7 linked regions of the Homo sapiens genome follow. The protein of the gene in region 1 purifies or fractionates together with the protein of each later gene. This does not show direct contact. Each region holds a gene or a part of one and is shown in the gene's direction. Other genes may lie near its edges.

Region 1 (4,115 bases):
CACCTGCCTGTGGACGTGGGGTCCGGAAAAGCCTCTAGCGGGGAGTGAGCTCCAGCCCTCGGGGATGATGCCAGAGCCTGGGGCAGCTCCAGCCCTGCCACAGCTTCACTGCCTGTTCGTAATGGGTCACGTCCGTGCCCTGGGACTTGTCTGTGAAACACAGGGAATGATTAACTGGTTTCCGAGGGTTTGTCCAGTTCTAACATTCTGTCCTCTGCACTTTATACAGGATTTTAATTTCGATTTTAATTCCCCAAACAGGTGAATGGGGGAGGGAAGGGGGAGATCGTCACAGAGCCACAGCACCTCTAAGGAGGGGTGAAACCGTGATGGGATGTCAGGAACACAGAAGCACCCCAACCACTCTCCATAGGAGGCAGACCCCCGCCCCGTCCCACCAAGGGGAGGTGACCACCCGTGGATTTCCAGACTGAATCCCATCCTGCCATCTGCCCCCAGATACAGAAATGGAGGCCCAGAGAGTGGGTGTCATGTTCAGGATCATGCCACACACCAGGGCAGAGCTGAGCTAGGACCCAGCCTCCTGTCTGCCACTGGGGGCTTTGTACCCTCTCTAGCACATACCTGGAAGTCTGAAGCTTGGAGATGTGGTCCCTCAGGAGGGAAAGCCCCTTCTGAATATCCTGTTTCTGTTGGGCCCCAATCACAGCCCTTGCTCTCCCCGCCAGGGGCTGCGGGCCACTCTGTGGGGCAAGGGTAGGGTCCGGGTGCCCACACAGGAATGGGCCCGGGGTAGGTTGGGGGCTGGATCTGGGTTGCCCTGGGGAGGTGGGAGACACAGCCCACCATGACTGGTGGAGGTCTAGGTTCTGGGCCCTCCCTGAACTGGTTAAATCCGGGCGTGTGAGTATCGGAGGAGCCACCGGCTCTCCAACTGGCGCCCCTGACTTTAGCCATCTGAGACTCCTCTCTCCAGTTCTCCCAGATACGCTAGGCTCAAGCCCTCAGCCCGGCTCCCAGAGCCTCCGCCGGGAGTCCACGCCCGAGGCAGGGGTTGGGTGAAGGGTACTGAGTAGGTGCTGGGAGCCCCGTCACCAGCACCCTGCTCCCAGCTCCGTAGCCAGAGCAAACCCTCTCCCGCTCCCCGCGGGCGTTCGCGGCCGGTCGGCCCCGGCGTGACTGCGCCCCCATTGGCAGGAGGGGCTCTGCCGCCCGGGCCCCCAGTCCCCGGGCCCCCCACCCCCAGGGCAGCACGTGCGGGGCGGGGCTGTGGCCCGAGCCCGGAGCTGATTGGGCGCGGGCCTGGTGGGCGGGGCCGGGCCGCAGCTGTCAGAGCCGCGGCGGCGAACGAGGCGCAGCGAGCTGAGCGGTGGCAGCGCCGCAGCCGGGGCCGGAGCGCAGGAGCCGACGGGGCCCGACCAGGATGGTGCAGTGGCGGCTCCGCGGCGCACGCACGCGCTGAGCGGGCCCAGCCTGGGCCCCGCGCCCCCCGCGCCCCCCGCCGCCCCGATCCGGGCCGGCATGATGTGCCTGGAATGCGCCTCGGCGGCGGCGGGCGGCGCGGAGGAGGAGGAGGCGGACGCGGAGCGGCGGCGCCGGCGCCGGGGGGCGCAGCGAGGGGCTGGCGGTAGCGGTTGCTGCGGGGCGCGGGGCGCGGGCGGCGCTGGAGTCTCGGCCGCGGGCGATGAGGTGCAGACGCTGTCGGGCAGCGTAAGGCGGGCCCCGACCGGACCCCCCGGCACCCCCGGCACCCCCGGCTGCGCAGCTACTGCAAAGGGCCCCGGCGCTCAGCAGCCCAAACCGGCCAGCTTGGGCCGCGGGCGGGGGGCAGCCGCCGCCATCCTCAGCTTGGGCAACGTGCTCAACTACCTGGACAGGTACACCGTGGCAGGTGAGCGAGTGCCCCACCCAGCCCGAGGACCAAGACCCCACCCCATCCCACCACCCGCCTCGAGGGAGGTACCCCAGAGAGCTTTTGGTCTCAGGCCTGCTATCTCCAGGCCCTACGTGAGGTCCCTACGGACCCTCTGCTCAGGCACAACTGGGCAAGGGATGCCTCCGTGCACCACGGGTACAATCCAGCTCCCCGCTCATACACACCCGGGGCCAAGGGATAGAGGAGTCCCCACCCCTGGAGCAGCCCGCGCGTCCTCTCCAGCCCTTGACGGCCCATCCGTTGTCCTCCTCTCCAAGAGTCTCCTCTGCGTCTCTCTGTCTCCTTGTCTCTGCGCCCCCTCCGACCCCAGCTGCCGGTTCCCGGGCCTCCTTCCCTTCCCTTCCCCCAGCCCAGGTCGTCTGTCCGTCCATGGCCCGTCAGTTCCTTCCTTTCTCCGCCGCCTCCACCCCCCTGCGTGCGTGCGGCGAGTGCGCGCGCCCCTTGCGGGTGTGCGCTAGGGAGACCGGGTGTGTGTGCGCGTGGCGGCGCGGTTGTGTGTGAGCGCGTGGCTGACAAAGGCTCCGGGCTGCGGGGAGCGGAGGGAGGGGCGGGGCGGGTCCGCGGCGCCTGGGGACCCAGGCTGCGGTTTGCAGCTGGCCCTGTACAGAGGCCTGGAGACGCCTCCCCCTGCTCTATGGTGCTTGGGGTGTAGGGTAGGGCGCAGGCCTCTGGAGCTAGAGACGTGGAGCCTCATCCTCAGGGAGCATCTCTGGGAATCAGCCTTGGGGACGGGATTGGGATCGATAGAACAACTGGGTTCTAGCCCCAGCTTTGCTCCTAATGTGCTTGGTGTGTGACCTTGGGCCAGTCTCAGCGTGTGTTTAGGTCTGTTTGCCCGTTTGTGAGTTGATTGATCATTGGGCCTTTGGGGGACGCACGTGGTTCTGGAATTGCCTTCTGCTGGCTCCCTTCCCCAGCAATTAGGGGTGGGTCTAGGGGTAAGAATTTGCCCTAGACTGAGCTGCTACTGGTTGGGAATGGTGGAGCTTTGAGAGGGAAGGACTTTGGCCAGACTGGCATAGGAAGGGGCTCCCTGCAGGAGGAGAGCAGTACTGTGTGCCTGGCATGCTGGCCCAGAACCTGCGTAACTATAGCTTAGTAAAATCTGGAGCTATCAAACACACACACAACAGAGAGAGAGAGGAGATAGGAGAGAGGGAAGGATTTATTTTTGGACAGACTCTAAAGAGAACTTTGCGGCAATTGAGGGAAGAGAGCCCGGGCATAAACCACATGCCACCTGGTGCCTTCTCTGGGCCTCAGTCTCCCCGTCTGTTGAATGGAGTTTTGTGTCAAATGGAAGGGAAGAATTCTGATGGGAGGGCAGAGGCTTCCCCCTCCCCCCATTCCTGCTTTCAACCCCCCTTGGCTCTCTGTCCTTCCGCTGGAGGAAATTGGAAGTGGGTACCAGTGGCATCAGTTTCTGGGTCGAGCTATCCCAAAGAGAAACTTACTTTGGTCTAGAGAGCAGGAATATTGAGCACCTCCCAAAAACGCCAGCCGCTGTCACGCATGCACCATGCTGCCGGGGACCTGGGAGCATAAGCGCCATCCTTTGGGGGAGAAATCAGAGAATACCTGGGACCTGTAGTCAGTTCACAAAAGGCTTCTGTACACAGATAGGGGGACCAATGTCCCTGTACAGCCCCCGTTCAAGATGGCCAGGAAAGTGACTGGCAAAGCTGGTGTTAGCTCTAACAGTAAGGCTCTGCCTGGGAGGAGGTCTTCCCACCCTTTCTCAGCTGAAGAAGGAATGGTACTACTTCTGGCACTGTAGCGCTCTCCAACTTGTTTTTTTTCTGGCCCCAGACCACCCCCTTTGACGTTCTTAGGGGAACTGCCTCTGCCAGGGGCAGAGCCAGAGAGGGTGGGATCAGGGAGGGCTGGCACTTATCTGCTCCCACTTCTACTCAGGTCTCTGAGTCAGATTGTCAGCATGGGGGAATGAGATAGGAAATTTGTGGTGAATTGGTAAAGGGAGGTGGGGAGTGGTGGCTAAGAGGGGCGTGGGGCAGTTAGGGAGGAAGGCCCGGAAAGTCCTGTGCAAACACTTGCCTGGGCTGTGCCTCCCTCCCTCTCCTGGCCTGGAGTGGGAGCTCACACACCACCCCACCCCCAACACACAACAGACACAGGTTTCCTCTCCGGATAAGCCTGGTTGCCCCTCTCTCTATGGTAGATTTCCCCATCTCCACTTCCCCAAGTTCAGTTTTTAGGA
Region 2 (2,272 bases), on another chromosome or scaffold:
GTCAGTGCCTCATGTGCCGATGGGATTGAATGCAACCATTCCAGATGTGTGGTTTCTGAAAGTTCCCAGAACTTTCAGAGGTTGTCAAAGTCCCCCTCCAGATGAGGAATACACTGCTGTTCCTCCCATCGCATGCTCTTTTCTGGGAATGACTCAATTCAGAGGTACTAATTCTGGTTTTTCTTGTTTAGGACCAGTGTGACCAACGCCCAGCCACTGCAACCAACCATGTGACAGAGGGGATTCCTAGACTGGATTCCCAGCCTCAAGAGACCTCACCAGAGCTGCCCAGGAGGCGTGTCAGACACCAGGGTATTTATTAGCCAGGACTCAGCCAAGGCCGCAGGTCTACTGCTGGCTCCGGCCTGTTTACCACTTCCCATCCACTGCTCTAATGTGGGGATTACCTGCATCTCAAATTTCCAAACACACTAGGGTCTCATAGGGGACTCCTCTGCAGGTAGTTGTGGTCCCACATTAGACTGAGCTCTCTCAAGTGTGTGATTTTTAGGGTAATGGCTTTGCGGACATCCATGAGATACATGTAGTAGTAAGTGCTTGTAATAAGTTTCTGGTTTCCTATCTGTGCACTTAGTGGATTATTTGTAGATAATTTGCAGACCTTATGGTAGCTACCCTGGGCCCCCATTTCAAGTTGAAATACACTTAGGGTACTCAAACCTATTATTATTATTTAATTTTTTTGTAGAGACAGAGTCTTGCTCTGTCACCCAGGCTGGAGTACAGTGGCACAATCATAGCTTACCACAGCCTCAAACTCCTGGGCTCAAGTGATCCTCTCTCCTCAGCCTCCCAAGTAGCTGGAACTACAGGCACACTCTACTACACCCAACTAATTTTTTTGTTTTTGTAGAGATAGGGTCTTGCTATGTTGCCCAGGGTGATTTCGAACTCTTGGCCTCAAGTAGTCCTCCTGCCTTGGACTCCCAAAGCATTGGGGTTACATGCGTAGGCCACTGTGACCGACCTCAAACTTATTTATTTAATTTATTTTTTTTAGACAGGGTCTCTTTGTCATCCAGGCTGGAGTGCAGTGGCGTGATCACTGCAGTCTCAACCTCTTGAGCTCAAGTGATTCTCCCACTCTTAGCCTCCTGAGTAGCTGGGACTATAGGTAGGCTAGGTGCCCACCAACACACCCAGCTAATTTTTAATTTTTTTTTGTAGAGTTGGGGTTTCGCCACATTGTCCAGGCTGATCTTGAACTCCTGGGCTCAAGTGTTCCTCCCAGCTCGGCCTCCCAAAGTGTTGGGATTACAGGTGTGAGCCATCACACCCAGCCTCAAACTTATTATTATTACTTAAGACCATCATGTTTAGGCAAGTAAACTGTTTTTGAAACCTCACCACTACAAAGCCAATTAGAAATTATTTTTTGGCTGGGCATGGTGACTCACACCTGTAATCCCAGCACTTTGGGAGGCTGAGGTGGGCGGATCACAAGGTTGGGAGTTCAAGACCAGCCTGGCTGACATCATGAAACCCCGTCTCTACTAAAAATACAAAAATTAGCCGGGCGTGGTGGCGGGCGCCAGTAGTCCCAGCTACTTGGGAGGCTGAGGCAGGAGAATCACTTGAATCCAGGAGGCAGAGGCTGCAGTGAGCCAAAATCATGCCATTGCACTCCAGTCTGGGCGACAGAGCAAGACTCCATCTCAAAAAAAAAATTATTTTTCAAGGTTTGCTTGCACACTATTGTTGAATAGTTAGGAGGCTGTCTTTGAGGACTCAGATAATATGTGCAGAATTGATAAAATATCCCCATCTCTGCCCTGGAGATGTGGGTTCCAGCAGCCTTTTGGGGTGAGCAGTTGTCTTTTTTTTTTTTGAGACACAGTCTTGCTCTGTCTTGTCCAGGCTGGAGTGCAGTGGCATGATCTTGGCTCACTGCAGTCTTCACCTCCTGGGTTTAAGTGATTCTCCTGGTCTCAGCCTCCTGAGTAGCTGAGACTATAGCTGTGTGCCACCTCACCTGGCTAATTTTGTATTTTTTTTTTAGTAGAGATGGAATTTCACCATGTTGGCCAGGCTGGTCTCTAACTCTTGACCTCAGGTGATCCCCGCACCTCGGCCTCCCAAAGTGCTGGGTTTACAGGCATGAGCCACCACGCCTGGCTGAGCAGTTGTCTTCTATCTGGAATCTTTTTGTTCCTGCCCTAAACCTGGCACTATAGCCAGAGCAGGCTTTTTCCTAAAGCTGTTACCATTTTCTCTTCTCAGGAGACCTGTCTTCTGGTTACCTGGATGATAC
Region 3 (3,500 bases), on another chromosome or scaffold:
TCTTAACTTCAAATGATTGTCTTTTGATTTACTCTAGTTCAAGAGTTCTCAGTTGGGGGTGGTTCCCCCCTCACCCCCCAGGAAACATTTGGCAGTGTCTGGACATATTTTTGCTTGTTACACCTCTGGGAGTGGGCAGTGTGCTTCTGGAGGGTAGAGGCCAAGGATACTGCTAAACATCCTACAGTGTCCAGCATAGCCTCCTCCCTGCCCGCCAGCAAAAGTATCCAGTCCCAAATAGCAACACTGCTGAGGTTGAGAAATCCTGCACTTAGATAGATGTGAGACTGGCCTACATTAGAATAAGCCTGCATTAGAATAATTAGAAATTTTTTAAGACCATGGATGTTGGACTCCACCTCTGGAAATGGTGGGATTGAGAATCTTATTAATTTTTTTTGAGATGAGTCTAGCTCTGTCGCCCAGGCTGGAGTGTGGTGGTGCCATCTCGGCTCACTGCAACCTCTGCCTCCTGGGTTCAAGCAGTTCTCTGCCTCAGCCTCCCTAGTGGCGGGGATTACAGGCACCCGCCACCATGCCCGGCTGTTTTTTGTATTTTTAGTAGAGATGGAGTTTCACATCTTGGCCAGGGTGGTCTTGAACTCCTGACCTCGTGATCTACCCGCCTCGGCCTCCCAAAGTGCTGGGATTACAGGTGTGAGCTACCATGCCCGGCCACGAGAATCTATTTTTTAGAAGCTTCTCAGACAATACTGAAATGCAGCTGAATTTTGGAACCACTGTTTTACACCACAGGTTTAGGGACTGTTTGTGAGTTAAGGGTTCCTTTCGGTGATCTGTGAACTTGGTCTTTGCAGTACCTAGATCCTGCCTTGGAGATTATTTAGTAGTGGGGATTATTTAGATGGTATACTTAACCATTTTTCAGATGCCTGAAGACTGAACTTTAGAAGCATTTGTTAATTGATTTTATAAAATATCTTAGGACTTTTTTTTCTTAACCTCATGAAAATACATTACCATACTGTGCTGAAACTAAGCAAAATTCTTAGATATTTAGAGTTTGCTTCTGTGCTGAATAATCTTACACTACTGTAATTTTTGAGTTAGTATCTTTTGCCCTCCTTTTGTCAGTCAGTGGTCAGGTCTGGTTTTAGATGCCAGCTTCAACTTTTTTTTTTTTTTTTCGGAGACAGTCTCACTATGTCACCCAGGCTGGAGTGCAGTGGCATGATCTTGGCTCACTGCAACCTCCGCCTCCTGGGTTCAAGTGATTCTCCTGCCTTAGCCTCCTGAGTAGCTAGGATTACAGGTGCGTGCCACCACACCTGGCTCATTTTTGTATTTTTAGTAGAGATGGGGTTTCACCATGTGGGCCAGGCTGGTCCCGATCTCCTGACCTCAAGTGATCCGCCCGCCTCGGCCTCCCAAAGTGCTGGGATTACAGGCGTGAGCCACCATGCCTGTTTTTTGTTTTTGTTTTTGTTTTAATAAAGACCTATTCCCAGAGAATTAGCCCTGGATCAGTTTACCAGTTCTGCCCATTGAGGGCACAGATAGGCATACAGTATGCTCAGCCTTTAACACAGTGATCCTGCCCACTGGTAAGTTGGACTCTTCTGTGCCCTAGACTCTGATCCCAGCAGAGAAGTGTTCTTTTCTCCTGGGGAGATGAGATGCAGTGGTAGAGAGAAGGGTAGATCTTTTTTGCTCATATTAAAATTTAGATTATCTAGTTTATGGAATGGAAGAATATTAGGAAAACTATAAATTTTTAGCAGCTAAATGTTAATATCTGAAGTTACAAAAGGTCATGGAGGCATTTTCTTATTCTTCATCCTGAAATTCGGCCTGTGCCTATGTTGAGAACTACCAGTGACCACCATCTACTTCTAATATCCATTTATTTCATCAGCAAATACATTAATTGAGTCCTTACTCTGCTAGGAACTGTATTAGGGATTCACTGATGAACAGGCCCTTAAGGACCTGCAGTCTAGAGGAAGAGGCAAACAAGAGACGACAAAGCTGTTAAGAATTGTACATGGTGTCAATGGGGCCTGGGAGGAAAGAGCTTCTGTTTGCTGGTCAGTTGGTTGATTTGTTTAAACTTTGGGTGGTTGAGATTGCCAGAAGTTTTGCAAAAGAATAAGATAGTTACACTTTGTTACTCATTTATAAGAAATGATTACTTCGACTTGCCTCCTTAGTTTGAGGAGTCTTAAAAAGCAGTGCCATTCTTCCCATACTGAAGCCGTTTTGTAATGACAGATAGCTGTTTATAGCTCCCTACACAACAGTTATCCTTTGACCAAACCTCAGACACTGACTCTCTGGTTCCAGACCCGTCCGAAGCTTGCTGTAGGTTTTTGCAAAATGTTTCCGGCATTCTTGAAATAGATGCTACTTCAAGTGGGAGGGGGTGTTTCTCCTGCTGCATTATGGATCTAGGTTGACTGGAGATTTTGTTTTGGCCTTTTGACTTTGGCTTAGATTTATTTGTCATGGAAGCCCCCTTTCCTACTTCTCACCCCCTTTAGTTTTATGAGGAGGGAGATAGTTGCTAGTTAGATCAATACTCAGTTTATTTCAGGTATTGAAAGATTACAGACTGACATTTGGATACCAGGTAGGTTGGCTACGTGGTAAAGAAGCAAGTAAAAGGGCATTTGACAGTATGTGGAAAGGTATCTTATCTCTATGCCTAGCTAGGACATTTTCTTTTTTTTTTTTTTTTTTTTGTTGAGACGGAGTCTCGCTCTGTCACCCAGGCTGGAGTGCAGTGGCGTGGTCTCGGCTCACTGCCAGCTCTGCCTCCCGGGTTCACGCCATTCTCCTGCCTCAGCCTCCCCAGTAGCTGGGACTACAGGGGCCGGCCACCATGCCCGGCTAATTTTTTGTATTTATTTATTTATTTTGAGACGGAGTCTCACACTGTCGCCCGGGCTGGAGTGCAGTGGCGCTATCTCGGCTCACTGCAAGCTCCGCCTCCCAGGTTCACACCATTCTCCTGCCTCAGCCTCCCGAGTAGCTGGGACTACAGGTGCCTGCCACCACGCCCGGCTAATTTTTTTTGTATTTTTATAGAGATGGGGTTTCTCCGTGTTAGCCAGGATGGTCTCCATCTCCTGACCTTGTGATCCGCCCGCCTTGGCCTCCCAAAGTGCTGGGATTACAGGCGTGAGCCACCGCGCCTGGCCATTTTTTGTATTTTTAGTAGAGACGGGGTTTCACCGTGTTAGCCAGGATGGTCTCGATCTCTTAGTGAGCCGCCCGCCTTGGCCTCCCAAAGTGCTGGGATTACAGGCGTGAGCCGCTGCACCCGGCCCTAGCTAGGACATTGTCATGTCACAGACTGGGCAAAGAGCTGGCTTTACCCTGAGTAGAGGCTATTTACTAATTGTCACTTACGGCTGGCTAGAGTTGACCTGTTTTAGATGCATTAGTGAAGACTATACAGTTGACTGAACTTATGCAATTAAAGTTCGATAGGTTCTGAACATCTTTTTACAGATATAAGGAGGCTCTGATTTTGTACT
Region 4 (3,500 bases), on another chromosome or scaffold:
ATATTTGATCTTAGTTGCACTGTATCAGTATGATCTATATATACAGAGAAGAATAATTTGTAGAAGGTAATATTAGAAAGATACAGGCTGGGCATTGTGGCTCATGCCTGTAATCCCAGACTTGGGGAGGCTGAAGTGAGAGGATTGCTTGATCCCATGAGTTTGAGACCAGCCTGAGCAACATAATGAGACCCTGTCTTTACCATAGAAAAAAATTAGCTGGGGATGGTGGTGTGAGCCTGTAGTTCCAGCTACTCTGGAGGTTGAGGTGGGAGGATCACTTGAGCCCAGGAGGTCAAGGCTGTGGAACCTGATCATGCTACTGAACTCCAGCCTGGTTGACAGAATGAGATCCTGTCTCTAAAAAAAAAAAAAAAAAAAAAGATACAGCTTAAATATTAGGATATCCTTTAATTAAATAGAAATAACAGGAAAAGCTTCATTTTGAAGACTGTAGGAGAGTCAGCAATATTGTCATGTTTTAATTACTATTTTCAAACTAGTTATATTCGTCTCTTCTCACATAAAGATACTACTCGAGAATGGGTAATTTATGAAGGAAGGAAATTTAATGGACTCACAGTTGTGCATGCCTGGGGAGGCCTCAGAAAACTTACAATCATGGTGGAAGGGGAAACAGGCACGTCTTAAGTGGTGAGAAAAGAGAGAGGGCATGTGAAGGAGGAACTGTCAAACACTTACAATCTTAGTGGTGAGAAGAGAGAGAGAGGGCATGTGAAGGAGGAACTGTCAAACACTTACAAAACCATCAGATCTCATGAGAACTCACTCACTATCACAAGAACAGCATGGGGGAAACCACCTCCATGATTCAGTCACCTCCCACCAGATCTCTCCCTCATGGGGATTGTGGGGATTACAAATTGAGATGAGATTTGGACGGGGACACAGAGCCAAACCATATCAGTAGTTAAAATGATCTTGAATATGTTCTGAGAAAGAGTTTAAGAAAATAAATTTTCTTTCCTAGCTGGTTTCTTTCTTTTAAAAATTTATTTAGAAAGATTATAACCTAACTTGAAAATACAGTTAGTTGGTTTCTAGAGAGCTTCAAGGTAACTTAATTTTTATTGTACTATATATCTATCAGTTAATTATTTTCTGTAGCTAGTCACTTTTGTTGATTATATTTAATTAGTATCAGGCCCCATATGAATTTATATTTCTATTAGTTTATTTGCTCTGTTCTAGCTTCTGGATTTTAGAAAATAGGATTTGACTATTTTGCAAATATATGCCATTGATCATGAAGAGGACCGTTTTTTTTCTACTAGAGAAATTTAAAGTTTGAGGGTCAGAAGGATCTTGTGTGTATGTGTTTTATGTGTCCTTTTGAGTTGTGTGTTTGATGAAAATACCTCCTTATTTAAAATGCTTGGAATCTTCTAGCTTTAGGAGAACTTGTTAAACAGTAGAGACAGTTTTACATCAATAAACCTATATATTACACTTAAACTTCTAGCTAGTTATAAATTAGATTCTAAGCAATTCAAACTGACAAGTTTTCAAGTTATAAGGGTGTTTCAAGTTAAAAAATTAAAAAATGTAATTATTTTATAAACTAGCTGAAATGTTTTGATTGCAGGTTGGAATTTTAAAGTAAATGTGGCCTCTGCAGTGATTTGTTAATTTTAACCAAAGCTACTTTATTTTCTAGGTGTTCATTGTACTCATGGCTTCAATCGCACTGGTTTCCTCATATGTGCCTTTTTGGTGGAGAAAATGGATTGGAGGTATTTGTATCTTGTTATAATGGAAGATGTATTTTGTAATAAAAAATTTTATTGATATTTTAGTTGCAGAATTTTGTATTGTCAAGTTTTTGGTGAACTCATGATTAATGTAATTTGAACTGCTTTTCATTTTAGATATGGTTAATCTTTATACTACCATTACTTGGTGTGTGTGTGTATGTGTGTATGTGTATATATGTATGTTTTGTTTTGTTCTTTGAGACAAGGTTTCCTCTGTCATCCAGGCTGGAGTGTAGTGGTGTGATCATGGCTCATTGCAGCATTCACCTCTTGGGATCAAGCAATCCTCCCGCCTCAGCCTCTCAAGTAGCTGGGACCACAAGTATGTGCCACCCATGCCTGGCTAATTTTTTCTTTTTTGTCTAGTGAGGAGGTCTCCATATGTTACCCAGGCTGATCTTGAATTCCTGGGCTAAAGTTATCTTCCACCCTTGGCCTCCCAAAATGTTGGGATTACAGGCATGAGCCACCACACCCAGCCAGGTGTTTTGCATTAACCAGCAAATCACTTTGAGTGCTTATGAATTTCATAAACTGTATATTCACTTTTTCAGATTTTTTTCACCTCTTACAGAATTATCAGAGACAGATTCTTCCAATATTTTGTATTTTAGTATTTTTGGGAGAGTGTTACTCCATTTAAGCCAATCAACATGTCTTTATTGAGCATCTGTTATTTTTGAAGTGTGTTTTTAGATCCTGAGAGATTACGACTTTAGTACCCAATATTCTTAAGAGAATATATTACTAACTGAATTTTCTTGTTGACTGAGGGAGCATCATTATTTATGTTTACAAAGATTTTCACATAGTAGGTCCTTTTTTGAATATAATCAGTTGAAGTACACATATGATTTTGAATTTTGCAGTATGCATTGTTGGTGGTTCTGTACTGCATGTACTTTCTAGCTCTGACCATTCAGATGCTCTCCACAATGATCTCAGTTTCCTATGTCAGATTTAGCCTATGCTTATCCTCTCTTTGATGATCTAGACTCTTAGTGCCTGGATCTGTTGAAAGTTCCTGTAAAATCAATATGCTTTTACTTTGCTCACATTGTTGTTTTTTTGACTGATGTTTTGCTGCAGAGTCAGACCTCAACCTTCAAGACTAAATTCTTCACAGACCCTATCTAGGTCTCTACTATATACTCATAGCAATTTATTTTTAGAATTTCAGAATTTTCTGAATACCTTATATTAAAACCTTTTCAGAATGAATGTGTCCCTTAATAGATTGAATGACTTGAGGGTGAGGATTGTGATTTGCCCATTTTATAAACTTCTGTTGTACTTTATATGGAGCCTTGAATATAATAAGTGAGTTTTTGATAAGCCTGCATAAATAGAGGATAGCGAGGAAATTGCATGGTGTTTGTTTCCTATAGTATCGAAGCAGCAGTTGCTACTTTTGCCCAAGCCAGACCACCAGGAATCTACAAGGGTGATTATTTGAAGGAACTTTTTCGTCGGTATGGTGACATAGAGGAAGCACCACCCCCACCTCTATTGCCAGATTGGTGTTTTGAGGATGATGAAGACGAAGATGAGGATGAGGATGGAAAGAAGGAATCAGAACCCGGGTCAAGTGCTTCTTTTGGCAAAAGGAGAAAAGAACGGTTAAAACTGGTAATGTTTAAAAATATTATAATAGGTTTTTTTTTTCCTTTTTCTGCAAGCTTATTGAGATTTATAAAAATGGAATATTGGCCATGTTTCTTTAGC
Region 5 (3,500 bases), on another chromosome or scaffold:
GTGTCTGTCACCTTTTCCATTCAAGATCGAGCCCTGCAGCCCCCTTCCTCCAAGTCAGGACTCAAGTCTTAATCCTGACGTTTCCTCTCCTCTCCCTCCCTCACACAACTCCCACCCTGAGGAATCGCAGACTTCATACACTTGAGAGCTGGAAAGGCCTCCGAAAGTGCCTGGTCAGAGGAGGAGACCAGGCTGAAGCCCAGAGAGCCTTAGACCTTGACCAGGACCACACAGATGGACAGGACCAGGGCTCTTTCCATGGGCAGGCCAAGGGGCAGGCACAGCCCCCAAAGTTCCCTGAATGTGGGGAATAAGCAGTTTATGATTCTTCTCCACAGGGGATGTCCAGATAAGTGACAAGATCACCATCTCAAAGAACTTCAAGGAGAATGTGATTCGCCCTATCCTGAAAGTAAGAGGTCTTTCTTGGCACTTCCTGCTGGAGCCTAAGGTTGGGGGAGGGTGATCTTAGCCATCCTAAAGATCTGGAAGCCCCATAATTTCCCCAGTCTTCCCCTGGTGTCTGGTAATTTCCCTAACCCGCTCTGGGTCACTGAGCTCATCCCACCCCTAACCTGGCCCTTCAGGCTCACTTCCGGAGGGATGAGTTTCTGGGACGGATCAATGAGATCGTCTACTTCCTCCCCTTCTGCCACTCGGAGCTCATCCAACTCGTCAACAAGGAACTAAACTTCTGGGCCAAGAGAGTAAGAGGGAACTGCCCATGGGTGGGGGCGGGATAGCCAGCCACTGGAAATCTGGAACACTGGACTGGGGGCACCCCCACACACATAAAAGGTGGAGCACAGTGGTGTGGGGCCAGTGGCCCTGGCCTCAGGCCAGAGTGGCAAGAGATGGAAAGCAGTGGGCCACATGCAGGCATGCTTCTATCTGACCCATCTCAGGCCAAGCAAAGGCACAACATCACGCTGCTCTGGGACCGCGAGGTGGCAGATGTGCTGGTCGACGGCTACAATGTGCACTATGGCGCCCGCTCCATCAAACATGAGGTGAGCACAGGAGCCTGAGAAATGAGGCGCCTCCACACCTCCCTCCCCAGGGCCCCCCAGACCCAGTCCCTGAGCTCTCAGCCTGCCTCCCTATAGCTTGGTTGCTGGATATTCACACCCAGAGTGGATGCCCATTCAGAACCATAAACACATGATCACCAAGTAAAACCCCTGCTGGAGGGTAGCCCAGTATGAACCCCACTAGGACCAGGGAACTGGGCTGGGAGCCTCAGAAACTTGAGCGCAGTCCTGCGAGCTAGCTGTTATTAGCCCCAATTGGCAAATGAGAAAGCTGAGGCTCAGGCTCAAAGGAGGTCTCTGAGTTGCCCTAGCAGTAAGTGATGGAGGCCGACCTCCAAGCTGGGTCCAGGCCGAGGGAGTGACCACTTCACCTCCCCACCGACAGGTAGAACGCCGTGTGGTGAACCAGCTGGCAGCAGCCTATGAGCAGGACCTGCTGCCAGGGGGCTGTACTTTGCGCATCACGGTGGAGGACTCAGACAAGCAGCTACTCAAAAGCCCAGAACTGCCCTCACCCCAGGCTGAGAAGCGCCTCCCCAAGCTGCGTCTGGAGATCATCGACAAGGACAGCAAGACTCGCAGACTGGACATCCGGGCACCACTGCACCCTGAGAAGGTGTGCAACACCATCTAGCAGCCACCTGCCTGCTCCTATGTGCCCTCACCATCCAATAAAGGCCCCTTGGCTGTGGCATGGCAACTGACTTACCTTCCCCTCATGCCGCTCCCATCTCTACCCAGTCTCAGGCCTGCTTACCTCCTCACAGCCCATGAAGACCCCTTCTCAGCCCCAAAACCTGAAGGAGGAATTTCGCCCTACTCTGGCCCCTTTGTTGTGGGCCCATAACCTGCTAACAAGCCTTCAGGAGAGGAGCTGCCTTTCCACCCCCTTCAAGGCAAGGAGGGATGGAGGTCCCTTATTTCCTTCAGAATGATCCCCATCCCCCATAGTCGCCAGACTTTCTCATGTTCCCAGGAAGCTCAGAAGTATGGCAGCTAAGAACACAGCTGGCTGGAAGAAGACAGGGACCAGACTGAACTGCCACCCTCTGCTAGTCCTCATGCAACTCAGTCCCCAGAATGGCTCCACTGGGAGTGGAGGAAGAGCTCAGAGGCCCAGGTGCAGATAGTTCTGCAATTTAGTCTGTAGCCTCCTCGTTCCCTACCCTAAAATTCTAAGGGGAAGGGACCCATAGAGGCTTGCCTGTTTCCGCTACTATATTATGCCCAGTGTTCCTCCTCACCCCACGTCCTGGGGTCAGGCCAGACCATGTTTCGTCAGCCTTGGGGACTAGGCCAGTGTTGGGCACCTCCAGGAGGAGGCCTGACTGGTTCATTACCCTCCCCTACTCAGACTGAGCAGCAGTCCCAGATAACCAAGCAAGCTCAGCTCTGTGGGGGCCTCCTTCAAAAGACCAACATCGCAGACATTAGGAAGCTGTAGGAAGAGAGATCATGGGTTTGACCTCTGCCCACATGGCCATGGAGTCAGCCTCAGCCCTGTCTGTACTGCTCGTCCAGCTAAACGAGCCTGGAATAAACATGCAGTTTATTCAGTCTGCATGTTAGTCACAAAGCAGAGGGTCTGGACACCGTCCCCCAAGGGCATTTCACAGACCAGCCAATGTTTCAAGCCCACCTTAGCCAGGCACAGTAAGGCCTGGTGCATCCTTGGGCACCATCTACAGTAGCCACTGCTGATAAGCAGTCCACCCACCTTCCCCCACAGGCCCTTCATGGAACCCTCGCGTAGTGTTAGCTAGTCTTTCAGGAAGCAGAGAATGGGGCCAGGAATCAAAGTCCCTTGGGTAATGGAAGCATGTCCTAACAGTATGGTGGGTATGAGGCAGTCAGAATCCAGGGTGTGAGCTCCAGCAGATGCTTGGATCACTGTCTACCCCTCAGGGGCTGCTGCTCCCTACCTCACTGACTGCCTTTTTTTTTTTTTTTTTTTTTTTGAGACAGAGTCTCACTCTGTCCCCCAAGCTGGAGTGCAGTGGCGCGATCTCGGCTCACTGCAAGCCCTGCCTCCCAGGTTCACGCCATTCTCCTGCCTCAGCCTCCCGAGTAGCTGGGACTACAGGTGCCCACCACCACGCCCGGCTACCTTTTTGTATTTTTAGTAGAGACAGGGTTTCACCATGTTAGCCAGGATGGTCTCAATCTCCTGACCTTGTGATCTGCCTGCCTCGGCCTCCCAAAGTGCTGGGATTACAGGCATGAGCCACTGGACCCGGCCTGCTTTTCATTGTTTTTTACTTTTTGTTTTGAAATAATTTTAGACTTAGAGAAAGTTGCAGAAATAGTAGAAAATTCCCATGTATCTTTCATCTAGCATCTCCCAATGATTACATCCTACAAAGCCATACTGTAGTTTATCAAAACCAGGAAATTGCCGGGTGTGGTGGCTCATGCCTGTAATTCCAGCACTTTGGGAGGCTGAGGCAGGCAGATTACCTGAGGTCAGGA
Region 6 (3,500 bases), on another chromosome or scaffold:
CGTGCAAGTTTGAGAAACACCGGTTAACAGATGAGACAGGACAGTTAGAAGGAAGGACAGAGCCAGCCAGCAACTAACTGTAGCCCCTTGGCATCACACAAGAAACCCGGGATTCTCTGTCTCCTTGTGAAGATTTGCATCAGCTCTCTTTGAGGTTAGAGAAGGCAGCTGCTGGAAGAGGAAAGGGGTTTATCTGGACCAACTCTTCTGCCAAATCCATGTGCTGGAGTTTGTTGTATGATCACTCTCCTGAGTTTCCAGCTGTCCCTTTTCATGAGTCTCCTGGTCAGTGGCTGGGAAGGAAGGGGAGCGGGAGACTCGTGGATTGTCTTGAAAATCACTGGCCAAGTCAGGAAATGCATGCCTTCCTCTTGGCCTGTTTCTGGTATTGACTCTTTGGTTACCAAGAAACACAAACCCAGCTAGCTCAAGAAAGCATGTATATTATAATAAAGGCTATCTCAAAAAAAAAAAAACTATAAAAACATCCTACAAGAGCAGATGTTAGAGGCATTCTCTAAAATCAGGAGCGAGACAGTATCACCAGTTTCTATTTGGCATCGTACTGGAGTCTTAGCCAGTGGGTTTTCGTTTTTGTTTTTGTTTTTAAAGAAAAGACGAGAGATAAATTAAAGGTATGAGAATCAAAAAAGAAGTGAAACTGTCATTATTTGCAAATGGTAAAAGTCTATATGGAATACCCCCAAAATATCTACAGACAAATGAATAGAATGACGGGAGAGGTTAAAAAGATGTCTGGATGGGGTTTCACCTTGTTGGCCAGGCTGGTCTCAAACTCCTGACCTCAGGTGACCCTCCCACTTTGGCCTCCCAAAGTGCTGGGATTACAGGTGTGAGCCACTGTGCCCAGCCCCCATCCTCTTCTATCATTTTTAAAATCTCTTCTCCCATCATAAAATTAATTTCTCTCATATTTTTTGGTCAGGTAGAATTGGGAAAGTCCCACACTCTCCTATTCTCGTATTACCTTAACATCCCAAGCTTCCTTTCCTTTTTTGGTCTTTATGAATATATTTATATGGACAGAATTAAGATAAACAAAATTGATTTCCCCATTCTCTCACTTCCCCATCTTGTCTTCCTAGACCCCACAGAGTTAAAACTTGGGACTCCCCCGACCCTCCCAGAACACTTGTATATTGTTTGTTTGAGGTTCGTGCCGCAGTAACAGACACAGTATTTGATTGCACATACAGATGTTTGCTGGGTATATTCACTGTACATTTTATTTAATCTGGTTTTTTGTTTGGGGGTTATTTGGGGCGAGGTTGGTTTTGTTTTTAAATATTAAAAAAAATCTGTCAAAAAAAGATGTCTGGAGATAAGATACAGAAGTCAACTGTATTTCTATCAGCAATAATAAAAATATGTACATATTTTAAAACACATTTTTAAGAATAATTTTAGATTTACAGGAAAGCTGCAAAGATAGAGTGTATGTATATGTGTTTGTGTGTATGTGTGAGTGTATATGTATGCCTGTATGTATACATATATATTTTAAAGGCACCATTTGCAGCAATAACAAAACTATAAAGTACTTCAGAATGAATCCAACAAAAGATACACAAAACACGTGTACAGAAAATTACAATTTCACTGAGAGACATCAAGGAAGGATGTATAAGCATCCAGGGGCAACTCACAGACCCCACGAGTGGGAGGTTCTCCTGAGCCTCATGAGCCCTGGGTGGTGGCAGCCATTTCGCCACCTGTTCAGAGGCCACATAGTCTTGCCTCTCCACTTCTCTTCATGGTCCTGGCTTGGCATAGTGCAACCTGGTACAGTTTTTCCTATCACTACCTGGCATTTCTTATGGAGGAGAACCCTTCCTGGGCTCTTCTCAGGCATTTGACAGTCTTCATCCCATACCATCCCATACCATCCCACACATGGTAAGTGGGGCTGTCCCTTTCCAGCACCTTTGAGCCTCAGTGCTTTGCACTGCCTCATGTGGTCCTCAGTGCATCAGTATTGGCTTCTAACTTCACAGGAATAAGGAAGGCCTCCACAATGCCAAAGAAATCCTGACCCGCCTGGGAGTGGAGCCGTCCGATGATGACTGTGTCTCAGTCCAGCACGTTTGCACCATTGTCTCATTTCGCTCAGCCAACTTGGTGGCTGCCACACTGGGCGCCATCTTGAACCGCCTGCGTGATAACAAGGGCACACCCAGGCTGCGGACCACGGTTGGTGTCGACGGATCTCTTTACAAGACGCACCCACAGTGAGTCTGCCCTTTGCTATCATTGGCACTCTGTACCCATTGTGGGTAGGGACCTTCTCCAGAGATCAGACTTTTGTACCCGGTAAACGTTTTTCGGCAGACAAGACAATGGTGGTCGGGGGCTGTGGCTCATGCCTGTAATCTTAGCACTTTGAGAGGCCGAGGCAGGAGGAAGGAGTTTGAGAACAGCCTGGGCAACATAGTAAGACCTCATCTTTACGAAAAATTGAAAATAAATAAATAGATAAATAACATGCTTAGTTCTGGGCATAAGGTCAGCGTCGCCCCCTTGGGAAGTATCGCCCTTAGTCGATTCTTGCTGGTATTGCTTCTGCACTCTGTCGTTACCTCGCCCTGTCAAAAGTCGAGATGGAGATTTCTGTAGCTGTCGGCTCCTCTGGGTGGAATGTGTCTGTCTCTCGTCCGCATTTCATCAGGAGGACCTTGGGTCATAGGTGTGGTACCCACATTCTTGTTTCAGAAGCTCCTGTTAAAACCCCCCAAACCCTCAGACTTTACTTTTTTAAATGGGCAGCTTGTCTGTGCTTGGCCTCTGAGAGCTGGAGCTGCAGGAGCTGTAAGTTGTCCCCATTGGCAAGGAGGTGCTTTGTTCCCCACACAGCCTTCTGGTCTGTCAGTGGCCCCAGCCAGTCCTCATGCCATCTCACCTTAGTTTTAGAAGCCATGTTGTCCTGTGAGAACGTGGCTTATACTTTTTTTAAAAGGCTAAAGGGAAATTCTAAGTCATTATTTAATAAGTTTTAATGCTAGCCTGTGACATGATTGTTTTGCACAGGACCTCAGAGTTGTTTCCCACTGTACATATAAATACAATGTGCATGTGAAGCACCCATGTCAGTACTGCACCTTCACACCCAGTTCTGTTGATGGCTCAAAGAATGTCGACTTCAATTGAAATAGTTCTGGCCTGGCATGGCAGCTCACACTTGTAATCCCAGCACTTTGGGAGGCTGAGGCAGGTGGATTGCTTGAGCCCAGGAGTTCGAGACCAGCCTGGGCAATGTGGCTCTACAAAAAATCATACACAGCTGGGTGTGGTGGTGTGCCTATAATCCCAGTTACTTGGGAGGCTGAGGTGGGAGGATCACTTGAGCATGGGGGTGCAGAGGTTGCAGTGACCTGATGTGCCTCTACACTCCAGCCTGGGGGACAGAATGAGCTCCTGTCTCAAAAAAAGAAAGAGAGAGAAATAGTTTTGTGTTGCTGAGGGGATAGGGTTTGAGCCAAGGA
Region 7 (3,500 bases), on another chromosome or scaffold:
TCCCAGTGCTTTCGGAGGCCGAGGCGGGCGGATCACATGAGGTCAGGAGTTTAAGACCAGCCTGGCAAACATGGTGAAACCCCGTCTATACAAAAATACAAAAATTAGCTGGGCATGGTGGCATGCGCCTGTAATCCCAGCTGCTAGGGAGGCTGAGGCCGAAGAATCGCTTGAACCTGGGAGGTGGAGGTTGTAGTGAGCCAATATCCCGCCATTGCACTCTAGCCTGGGCGACAGAGCGAGACTCTGTCTCAAAAAAAAACCAAAAAACAAAAAACATACTTTCAATCTTGTTATTTCTGCATAGCTGAGTGCTAATTTGTAACTATTTATTATGTTTTAGATTATTATCTTTATAGAGCTCAGAGAACTTAATGTTTTTGTAAGGAAGCCCTTGGTTTACCTTCTTCCATTAAAGTTTGTGTAATTTTATAGGGTTAAGTATAGCAGATAGTTACACAGCAGGGAAACCTAAGCTTTTCAGTGGCTTATATTTCATTGTTATAAATTTGATACCTCTATCTTTCGTCTACTATCTGTGGCAACCATGTCAAGCTTTAATTATCTTATAAATGCATGCAATTTTATTTTACCATTATTTCTAGGAAATAGCTTCATTTAGTCCTTCAACAAATAAACTATTGTAGTAGATGTGGAGGTTCTGAGGATGAATAAAGCATAACCCATATTCATAAGGAGTTTGCAAAAGAATGCTACTACAGGCTTTTAATTTTATTTTGAAAATTAATATTATTCATTTTCTTTTTTCTTTTTTTTTTTTGATGGAGTATCACTCTGTTGCCCAGGCTGGAGTGCAGAGGCGTGATCTCGGCTCACTGCAACCTCCGCCTCCCAAGTTCAAGTGATTCTCTTCCCTCAGGTTCCCATGTAGCTGGGATTACAGGCCTGTGCCACACCTGGCTCATTTTTTTTGTATGTTTAGTAGAGATGGGGTTTCACCATGTTGGCCAGGCTGGTCTTGAACTGCTGACCTCAGGTGATCTGCCCACCTCGGCCTCCCAAAGTGCTGGGATTACAGACGTGAGCCACTTCGCCCAGCCTCCATTTAATTTTTTTTAGTTTACTGGTAGTTATGTTCCTTTGGTATCATTCTTTTTTTTTTTTTTTTTTAGTTCCTTTTTGTAGAGATGGTGTCTTGATATGTTGCTCAGGCTGGTCTCGAACTCCTGGGCTCAAGCAATCCTCACCTCTGCCTCACTAAGTGTGGGGATTATAGGCATGAGTCACTCCGCCCGGCTGGATTCTCATTGCTTTCTTATATGTGTGCACTCTCATAGCAACTAGCCTTGTGGCACCCATTAAAACAACACATTCACACAAATGCATTATTCACTGATATACCAGATTTCTATCTTGTCACATAAAGCTAAAAAGAGACATTTCAGTTGACTCATTTTCAGACATTTGAAAGTTAAAGTGTATTTTCAGTTCACCTTATGGATTTTGTTTTTTGATTAGGACAGTTTATTAAGGCTGTTTTCTCCAAATTTCCAAACTTCTGATTGCATACCAGCTCTTTTGTTATCTTTTTTCTCTAATGCTGCTTATTTGCATTGCATCCAGAGTTTTATATTTTTGCTACCATAGGCTTGTATGTTTGATTTTTTTTTTTCTTTTTCTGAAAGACTCTTCCTTTTAAGGAAGGGCCTAGGGGCTGTGGGGAAAAAAGTGATTACTAATACTTTCTCTTCAGAATGAAACTCCAGGATTCCCTGGCTGTTATTTGCTAGAGTTGGATCTGTACCTATTTAGATCCTAATTTAGGGTTTGGCACATTATGGCTGGCAGGCTAACTAAGTGGCTAAGAATTAATGGGTTTTACATTTTTAAAGGGTTGGAAAAAAACAAACATGATATGCAAAGCCTAAAATATTTCATATTTAGAAAAAGTTTGCCTATCCCTGTCTCACATCACAGCAAGACTGAAAAATAGAGTTTTCACTAAAATATCTATATGTTTTGTTGTTGTTGTTGTTCTAGCATTTGGTGGTATGGGATTGGTAAACAATTAGCAACAACTTTATATCATCACTTTTCTTTTGTATAAAGTCAGTTTTCTATACATCTTGCAACATCAGAGCTGTTAAAGGGAGTGCAAGAAAAACTTATAGATGTCTGATCAGAACCTAAATCAACACCGTTCAAGATAATTTTCCGTGGAGATAGAAGTGCTCTCTATCTTCATTGCCCACATGGTAGCCACTAGCCACACTTAACTATTGAGCACTTGAAATATGGAAAGTATGACTAAGGAACTGAATTATAAATTTTATTAATTTTAACTAATGCAAATTTAAACCATGTTTGGCTCGTGGCTATAATATTGGATATTGTAGACCTAATTTCTTTTTTTTTTAAGAGAGACAGGGTCTCGCTTTATCATCTAGGCTGGAGTACAGTGCTATGATCAAAGCTTACTACAGCCTCAAACTCCTGGGCTGCAAGCAATCCTCATGCATCAGCCTCTTGAGTAGCTGGGATGTACCACCATGCCGGCTAACTTTTAATTTTTTTGTAGAGACAGGGTCTCACTATGTTTCTCAGGCTGGTTTTGAACTCCTGGGTTCAAATGATCCTCCTACCGTGGCCTTCCAAAGTGCTGGAATTACAGGCATGAACCACTGTGCCTAGCTAACCTAAATTGTTTTAAGTTTTAGAAATTTTTTTTTTTGGTAATACTCTAGGATAGTCTCAATAAATGTTGATAGATATTATTTTCTTAATAAAACTGAAATGGAATAGTGTGTTTGAGATTATACAGTGATAGTAGTTCATATTTATTTCTTTAACCATTCTTATATGCAGACAACAGTTGATATTTCTACTTGGTGTGAGCAGTTTGCAACTTTTTGTTCAGAGCAACTGGACGGGGCCCCCTGTTGACTTACACCCTCAGGACTTTTTGTCATCTGTTTTGTTCCAGCAATTCAGTGAGGTATGCTTCTTGAAAATGTTGTATGTAATTATTATTATGTTATTTATTTTTTATAAGCAGGTCTTTATAAACTGGAACTCATAGTAGGAAAGAAACATGACTTTATGGTTTGCACAAAAGTACTAAGAATGCTTGTTCATTGATCAGATTTTCACAGATTTCCAGAAGTTCCTTTGTCAAACTCCTCTTCATACACACTCCATTTTATGGAGCTGTGTTAGCTGTGTTTTTTAATGAAAGTACAGACAGCTGCACCAGTTGTTTAGTTGGTTGTATCACCTCAGTTACATAAAGATTTTTTTTTTTTGAGATGGTATCTCACTCAGTCATCCAGGCTGTTGTACAGTGGCTGGATTACAGCTCACTGCACCCTCAACCTACTCAGGCTCAGGCGATCTTCCCACCTCAGCCTCCCAAGTAGTTGGGACTACAGTTGCATGCCAACATGTCCAGCTAATTTTTTTGTAGAGATGGAGTTTTGCCATGTTGCCCAGGCTGGTCTGAAACTCCTGGGCTCAAGTGGTCTGCCTGCCTCAGCCTCCCA

What was found.
Region 2: the proteins of SPNS2 (region 1) and TRAFD1 purify together in Homo sapiens (affinity purification with mass spectrometry; one large-scale study listed by BioGRID and IntAct). This does not show direct contact.
Region 3: the proteins of SPNS2 (region 1) and PPP6R3 purify together in Homo sapiens (affinity purification with mass spectrometry; one large-scale study listed by BioGRID and IntAct). This does not show direct contact.
Region 4: the proteins of SPNS2 (region 1) and RNGTT purify together in Homo sapiens (affinity purification with mass spectrometry; one large-scale study listed by BioGRID and IntAct). This does not show direct contact.
Region 5: the proteins of SPNS2 (region 1) and CLPB purify together in Homo sapiens (affinity purification with mass spectrometry; one large-scale study listed by BioGRID and IntAct). This does not show direct contact.
Region 6: the proteins of SPNS2 (region 1) and HK1 purify together in Homo sapiens (affinity purification with mass spectrometry; one large-scale study listed by BioGRID and IntAct). This does not show direct contact.
Region 7: the proteins of SPNS2 (region 1) and TTC27 purify together in Homo sapiens (affinity purification with mass spectrometry; one large-scale study listed by BioGRID and IntAct). This does not show direct contact.

Annotation. Positions count from the first base shown.
Region 1 is NC_000017.11:4,497,566-4,501,680, forward strand, and holds the start of SPNS2 (sphingosine-1-phosphate transporter SPNS2), read left to right. Parts: upstream 1-1,315; 5' UTR 1,316-1,482; coding exon 1,483-1,852; intron 1,853-4,115.
Region 2 is NC_000012.12:112,149,560-112,151,831, forward strand, and holds part of TRAFD1 (TRAF-type zinc finger domain-containing protein 1), read left to right. Parts: intron 1-191; coding exon 192-312; intron 313-2,241; coding exon 2,242-2,272. UniProt on the Homo sapiens protein: Negative feedback regulator that controls excessive innate immune responses. Regulates both Toll-like receptor 4 (TLR4) and DDX58/RIG1-like helicases (RLH) pathways.
Region 3 is NC_000011.10:68,463,752-68,467,251, forward strand, and holds part of PPP6R3 (serine/threonine-protein phosphatase 6 regulatory subunit 3), read left to right. Parts: intron 1-3,500.
Region 4 is NC_000006.12:88,904,619-88,908,118, reverse strand, and holds part of RNGTT (mRNA-capping enzyme), read left to right. Parts: intron 1-1,678; coding exon 1,679-1,754; intron 1,755-3,163; coding exon 3,164-3,404; intron 3,405-3,500.
Region 5 is NC_000011.10:72,291,532-72,295,031, reverse strand, and holds part of CLPB (mitochondrial disaggregase), read left to right. Parts: intron 1-338; coding exon 339-412; intron 413-587; coding exon 588-707; intron 708-905; coding exon 906-1,010; intron 1,011-1,416; coding exon 1,417-1,665; 3' UTR 1,666-3,500. UniProt on the Homo sapiens protein: Functions as a regulatory ATPase and participates in secretion/protein trafficking process. Has ATP-dependent protein disaggregase activity and is required to maintain the solubility of key mitochondrial proteins.
Region 6 is NC_000010.11:69,377,847-69,381,346, forward strand, and holds part of HK1 (hexokinase-1), read left to right. Parts: intron 1-2,015; coding exon 2,016-2,249; intron 2,250-3,500. UniProt on the Homo sapiens protein: Catalyzes the phosphorylation of various hexoses, such as D-glucose, D-glucosamine, D-fructose, D-mannose and 2-deoxy-D-glucose, to hexose 6-phosphate (D-glucose 6-phosphate, D-glucosamine 6-phosphate, D-fructose 6-phosphate, D-mannose 6-phosphate and 2-deoxy-D-glucose 6-phosphate, respectively).
Region 7 is NC_000002.12:32,631,050-32,634,549, forward strand, and holds part of TTC27 (tetratricopeptide repeat protein 27), read left to right. Parts: intron 1-2,826; coding exon 2,827-2,956; intron 2,957-3,500.